Linked DNA regions of Homo sapiens. The protein of the gene in region 2 interacts with the protein of the main gene of each other region in a pairwise test. Each region holds a gene or a part of one and is shown on either strand. Other genes may lie near its edges.

Evidence for each region. Proteins that work in one complex are often made in the same cells at the same time.
Region 1: the proteins of ATP5PF (region 2) and MALL interact in binary tests that used the Homo sapiens proteins (3 or more experiments, as listed by UniProt).

The regions. Positions count from the first base shown.
Region 1 is NC_000002.12:110,109,323-110,112,822, reverse strand, and holds part of MALL (MAL-like protein), read left to right. Parts: intron 1-3,500.
Region 2 is NC_000021.9:25,724,905-25,728,404, forward strand, and holds part of ATP5PF (ATP synthase peripheral stalk subunit F6, mitochondrial isoform a precursor), read right to left. Parts: intron 447-3,500; coding exon 322-446; intron 1-321. UniProt on the Homo sapiens protein: Subunit F6, of the mitochondrial membrane ATP synthase complex (F(1)F(0) ATP synthase or Complex V) that produces ATP from ADP in the presence of a proton gradient across the membrane which is generated by electron transport complexes of the respiratory chain.

The DNA.
Region 1 (3,500 bases), on a different chromosome or scaffold from region 2:
ACAATTTCACAATTGTGAATTGTGCTGCTATAAACATGTGTGTGCAAGTATCTTTTTTGAATAATGACTTCTTTTCCTCTGGATTGATACTGAGTAGTGTGATTGCTGGATCAAATGGTAGTTCTACTTTTAGTTCTTTAAGGAAACTCCACACTGTTTTCCATAGTGGATGTACTAGTTTACATTCCCACCAGAAGGGTAGAAGTGTTTCCTGTTCACCACATCCACACCAACATCTATTTTTTTTTTGATTTTTTGATTATGGCCATTCTTGCAGGAGTAAGGTGGTTTCACAATGTGGTTTTAATTTCCATTTCCCTGATCATTAGTGATGTTGAGCATTTTTTCATGTTTGTTGGCCATTTGTATATCTTCTTTTGAGAATTGTCTATTCATGTCCTTGGCCCACTTTTTGATGGGATTGTTTGTTTTTTTCTTACTGATTTGTTTGACTTCCTTGTAGATTCTGAATATTAGACCTTTGTCAGATGTACAGATTGCGAAGATTTTCTCCCACTCTGTGGGTTATCTGTTTACTCTGCTGTCTGTTCCTTTTGCTGTGCAAAAGCTCTGTAGTTTAATTAGGTCCCAGCTATTTATCTTTGCTTTCATTGCATTTGCTCTTGGGTTCTTGGTCATGAAATCCTTGCCTAAGCCAATGTCTAGAAGGGTTTTGCCAATGTTATCTTCTAGAATTTTTGTAATTTCAGGTCTTAAGTTTAAGTCCTTAATCCATCTTGAGTTGGTTTTTGTATAAGGTGAGAGATGAGGATCCAGTTTCAATCCCCTACATGTGGGTAGCCAATTATCCCAGCACCATTTATTCAAAAGGATGTCCTTTCCCCACATTATGTTTTTGTTTGCTTTGTCAAAGATCAGTTGGCTGTAAGTATTTGGGTTTATTTCTGGGTTCTCTATTCTGTTCCGTTGGTCTATGTGCCTATTTTTATACCAGTATCATGCTGTTTTGGTGACTATGGCCTTATAGTATAGTTTGAAATCAGGTAGTGTGATGCCTCCAGATTTGTTCTTTTTGCTTAGTCTTGCTTTGGTTATGTGGGCTCTTTTTTGTTCCATATGAATTTTAGAATTTTTTTTTCTAATTCTGTGAAGAATGATGGTGGTATTCTGATGGGGATTGCATTGAATTTGTAGATTGCTTTTGGCAATATGGTTATTTTCACAACATTGATTCTACCCATCCATGAGCATGAGATGTGTTTCCGTTTGTTTGTGTCATCTGTGATTTCTTTCAGCAGTGTTTTATAGTTTTCCTTGTAGAGGTCTTTCAACTCCTTTGTTATGTATATTCCTAAGTATTTTATTATTACTATTATTATTTTTTGCAGCTATCATGAAAGGGGTTGAGCTCTTGATTTGATTCTCTGCTTGGTCGCTGTTGGTGTATAGAAAAGCTACTGATTTGTGTACATTAATCTTGTATCCAGAAACTTTTGCTGAATTCTTTTATCAGTTCTAGGAGCTTTCTGGAAGAGTCCTTAGAGTTTTCAAGTTAAACGATCATATCGTCAGCAAACAGTGACAGTTTGACTTCCTCTTTACTGATTTGGATGCCCTTTATTTCTTTCTCTTGTCTGATTGCTCTGGCTAGGACTTCCAGTACTATGGTGAAGAGGAGTGGTGAGAGTGGGCATCCTTGTCTTGTTTCAGTTCTCAGAGGGAATGCTTTCAACTTTTCGCCATTCAGTATTACGTTGGCTGTGGGTTTGTCATAGATGGCTTTTATTACATTAAGATATGTCCCTTGTATGCCGATTTTGCTGAGAGTTTTGACAATAAAGCAATGCTGGATTTTTTCAAATGTTTTTTCTGCATCTATTGAAATGATCATGTGATTTTTGTTTTAAATTCTGTTTATGTGGTGTATCACATTTATTGACTTGCATATGTTAAACCATCCTTGCATCTCTGGTATGAAACTCACTTGATCATGGTGGGTTATCTTTTTGATACATTGTTGGATTCAGTTAGCTAGTATTTTGTTAAGGATTTTAGCATCTATGTTCATCAAAGACATCAGTCTGTAGTTTTCTTTTTTGGTTACGTCCTTTCCTGGTTTTGATATTAGGGTGATGCTGGCTTCATAGAATGAATTAGGGAGGGTTCCTTCATTCTCTATCTTGTGGAATAATGTCAAAAGGATTGGTACCAATTCTTCTTTGAATGTCTGGTAGAATTCTGGTGCGAATCCATCCGTTCTTGGACTTTTTTTGTTGGTAATTTTTAAATTACCATTTCAATCTTGCAGCTTGTTATTGATCTGTTTAGTGTATCTAATTCTTCCTGATTTAAGCTAGGAGGGTTGTATTTTTCCAGGAATTTATCCTTCTCCTCTAGGTTTTCTAGTTTATGTGTGTAAAGGTGTTCCTAGCAGCCTTGAATGATCTTTTGTATTTTGGTGGTGTCAGTTGTAATATCTCCTGTTTCGTTTCTTAGTGAGGTTATTTGGATTTTCTCTCTTCTTTCCTTGGTTAATCTTGCTAATGGTCTATTAATTTTATTTATCTTTTCAAAGAAACAGCTTTTTATTTCATTTATCTTTCATGGGTTTTTTTGGTTTCAATTTCATTTAGTTCTGCTCTGATCTTGGTTATTTCCTTTCTTCTGCGGGTTAGGATTTGGTTTGTTCTTGATTCTCTAGTTCCTTGAGGTGTGACCTTAGATTTTCTGTTTGTGCTCTTTCAGACTTTTTGATGTAGGTGTTTAGGGCTATGAACTTTCCTCTTAACACTGCCTTTGCTATATACCAGAGGTTTTGATAAGTTGTGTCATTATTGTCATTCAGTTTGAAGAATTTTTAAATTTCCTTCTTGATTTTGTTTTTGACTCAATGCTTTCAGAAGCAGGTTATTTAATTTCCATGTATTTGAATGGTTTTGAAGATTCCTTTTGGAGTTGATTTCCAGTTTTATTCTACTGTGGTCTGACAGAGTGCTTGATATAATTTCAATTTTCTTAAATTTATCAAGTCTCATTTTATGGTCTAGCATATGGTCTATCTTAGAGAAAGTTCCATGTGCTGTTGTATAGAATGTGTATTCTGCAGTTGTTGGATGAAATGTTCTGTCAGTTGTAATATCTCCTGTTTCATTTCTGTTAAGTCCGTTTGTTCCAAGGTAGTTTAAATCCATTGTTTCTTCATTGACTTTCTGTCATGATGGCCTGTCTAGTGCTGTCAGTGGAGTATTGAAGTCCCCCACTATTATTGTGTTGCTTTCTATCTCATTTCTTAGGTCTATTAGTAATTGTTTTATAAATTTGGGACCTCCAGTGTTAGCAGCATGTATGTTTAGGATTGTGAAATTTTTCTGTCGGACAAGGCCTTTTACCGTTATATACTGTCCCTCTTTGTCTCTTTTAACTGATAATGCTTTAAAGTTTGTTTTATCTGATATAAGAATAGCTACCCCTGCTTGCTTTTGGTGTCCATTTGCATGAAGTACCTTTTTCCACCCTTTTACTTTAAGTTTATTTGAGTC
Region 2 (3,500 bases):
TACTATAATTCTCCCCAAATGTCAGATGAGGAGACATGCACCAGTTAATTACTCAAGATTACACAGCTGAAAGTGATTATAAGGATTCAAGATTGGGCAGTTCGATTTCAGATCCCCACCATTTAATCACTATGTTATGTGATCTCCTATACTGCTCTTATTCTAACAGCAAACATTTAGCCGGCAGCTTCTCAGGCACACGTCATGGTCCTAATAAATTCACATGTCAACACTGTCATTCAGTTCTCTAAAAATCCAGGTAAGTGTAAATATTCTTCACTTATCCCCCACAAGAATGAATCTGTGATTTATAAGACGTACCTTCAAATTTGAAGGTGGGAAATGTATTCATGTCTGCATTACCAAACATTTGCTTGAGCTTAAAAAGCTCCCTCTCCAGCTCTTGCTGATACTCTGAACTAGCATCAACAGGTCCTCCAGATGTCCTGTTAAGTAAATGAGCAAACAAAAATTAATTTTGTGTACTAGCTTACAAAAACAAAATTACTTTTCACCACCACATTCCAACAGATCTTTTTTTTTTTTTCTTTTTTGAGACGGAGTCTTGCTTGGTCGCCAGGCTGGAGTGCGGTAGCATGATCTTGGCTCTCTGCAACCTCCGACTCCCTGGTTCAAGCGATTCTCCTGTCTCAGCCTCCCAAGTAACTGGGATTACAGGCACACGCCACCATGCCCAGCTAATTTTTGTATTTTTAGTAGAGAGGGGGTTTCACCATGTTAACCAGGATGGTCTCGATCTCCTGACCTCATGATCCGCCCGCCTCGGCCTCCCATAAGTGCTCGGATTACAGGCGTGAGCCACCACACCCGGCCAATAGACCTTTTTAAAGCATTCATGTAGTCAAAGAAAAGACTTCAGAAAGAAAATAAGTATTTCTACTTCAATTTCAATTCAAACTATTTTATTACGATGAGGTTTCACATAAATGAGGTATCCTCAAACCAATCTCTAACATTCAAGGTTTCTCAGAATCACGGACACTCACTAAGTCAGAATTTCTCAGGGTCTAAGTTGCAAAAGGTGTATCGTTAAGTCTACAGGCTCTGGAGTCAAAGACTGGTCCTGTTTGAGTGTAAGTTCAACTATTCAGCAACTGCGTAAACCTGAGTAAGGCACAGAGCACTCTAAATTTTAGTTTCCACAACTAAATATGAAGGTTCTACCAAACGAGGGTGTAAATGCACACGTACCTCTAAGCACAGTGCCTGGCACACAGTGAGTACTCAATTATTATCTACTAATATCATCTGCTTTAAGTCAGCCATCACTAAATGGCTTTTAAAGACCTTAGACTTTTAAGTTTCTACCATAGGGGTCCTATTAAAGAAGCAAATTATTTCCTACCCTCAGAGATTTTGCAATTTCGAAGAAAAAAATTACATGTTTACAAACATTTATGCTGTAAAGGAGTGATGTGATGAGCTTCAAAGACATGATTTAACAAAAAGCTATTCAAGTTGAGGAAGAGATTACTTTTGCTAAGCTAATCAGGGAAAATTTCATTTTAAAAAGGTGGCATTTGAGAAACATCAGGCATCTGGGGCCAGGGTTTATTTTGAGACCTTCTAAGATGGAAAAAGCAAAGACATAGAGGTGGTAAGGGATTGGCTGTATGTGGGGAATGCTAAGGAGTCTAGATGGAAAAACCAGCAGACCCCAGATCATGGGAGGCCCGGAATGTTAAGCCTGGGAGTTTGTATTTTATTTGCCAAGCAATAAAATGACAAAATTAGACTTGTGCATTTTGGGAAAATAAATATAGCATTATGGACCAGCAGCAGGGCCAACTGGGTCTCATTAATTCTTTGAAGAAATTCTTCTGTTTTTGTCATAAATACTACTGCCTACCTAGCAATGAACAATATTCTAAATGTAAAAAAATGTACACATGAAAATTCCTTCAAGGGTAATAACATTTTTACACATGCCTATGATCAAAGTATACAGTCTTATTTAAGTTAAAGAACATGCACAAAAAATACATAGGTGGCTCCAATTTAAGAACTTGTTATCAATATTTCTTGTTAGAGACCCAATTTTCTTTTAGATTAGCACTGTCCAATAGACCTTTTTGTGATGTTAGAAACGCTCTCTGTCTGTGCTGTCCAGTGTGGCAGCCACTAGCCATATCTGGCTATTGAGCACTAGAAATATAGCTAACATGAATGAGAAAATGAGAAACTGAATTTATAAATACACTTAATTGTAATTAGAATTTGAATAGTCTCATGGATAACGGCAACCAAAATGGACACTGCGGTTCTAAATAGATCCTTCAACTAGATACTCTAATACTGGTTACAGATGGATGATGGCTATTTTAACTTTAATATGCACTCTTGTGATAAAAAGAGGCCAGAAATCATCTACCTCCTCAACTGAATGTAAGTCTTGCTGCTTATCTTGCTTATTACTATATTCCTAGGCTCTCACATGATGCCTAGGACAAAGCAGTCACTCAGAAGATACTTGTTCATTTCACTAGCAAATACTAGGCATGCTAATGTATTGAATAATTTAATTTTTATAATATCCTATGAAATGGGTAAGTACTACCATCATCCTCCTTTTACATATGAGAAAACTGTCCTACAGAAGTTAAACCTGCCCAAGGTCATAGAGCTAATTAGTGGCAGTGCTGGATGCCAGCCCAGGGTCTACCCTCAGAACTCTCCATGTGTTTGTTTGCACAAACGAATGAATGACCCACAAACAAGACTCCTTAGATATAGGGTACACCTAAGAATTCACTTCTTACTAGATAGGCTTTTAAAGACAGTTAAAATGATGCAAACAGCATCAATACTCTAATATAACACCACATTTGGACAGAAGACACTCAAAATTCCCTGACGAGTCCTGCACATCTGGTTACTTAACAGTATGATTTTTGGCAAATTCTAACTTTCAGCCTTGGTTTTCTCATATATAAAATTGGGGTAACATCTATAGGGTTGTTGTCAGAGTTTCATTACCATGTCTACAAAGCACAGAGTAACTTACTACATTTTAATCCCTTCACTATTTCTCCTCCTCAGTTTTGGCAATGGTAACACCTTTGTTAGTTACCTCGCCTCAAAAGTCAGTTTTCTTTTATTGTTCCCTCTTCTTCCTCTCCAGCAGCTCACCAAAACCAGGCATCAGTGTTTCAATGTCTTGACTCTGTCACTTTTACATTACCACTGCTATAAAGTCAAGGTTCTCATCAACTAATGCTTAGGTTACATTTTGCTAACATGTCTGTCTTTGCTCTCTTCTCATTTCAATCCTTCCAATACCCTGGTTAAAATTATCCTCCTAATTCAGAGTAATCTTCCATCCCCACAGTCATGTTCAAAAAGCTGTAATTTCTCACAAATGCCTACCACATATCTTACTTGCTCAGTCTACAATCAAGGCCTTCCATAATCCCTCATTCTAACCCCATACCATCCTTATACTCTTCATATACCCTATACTCCAGGGAAATAGAATTATA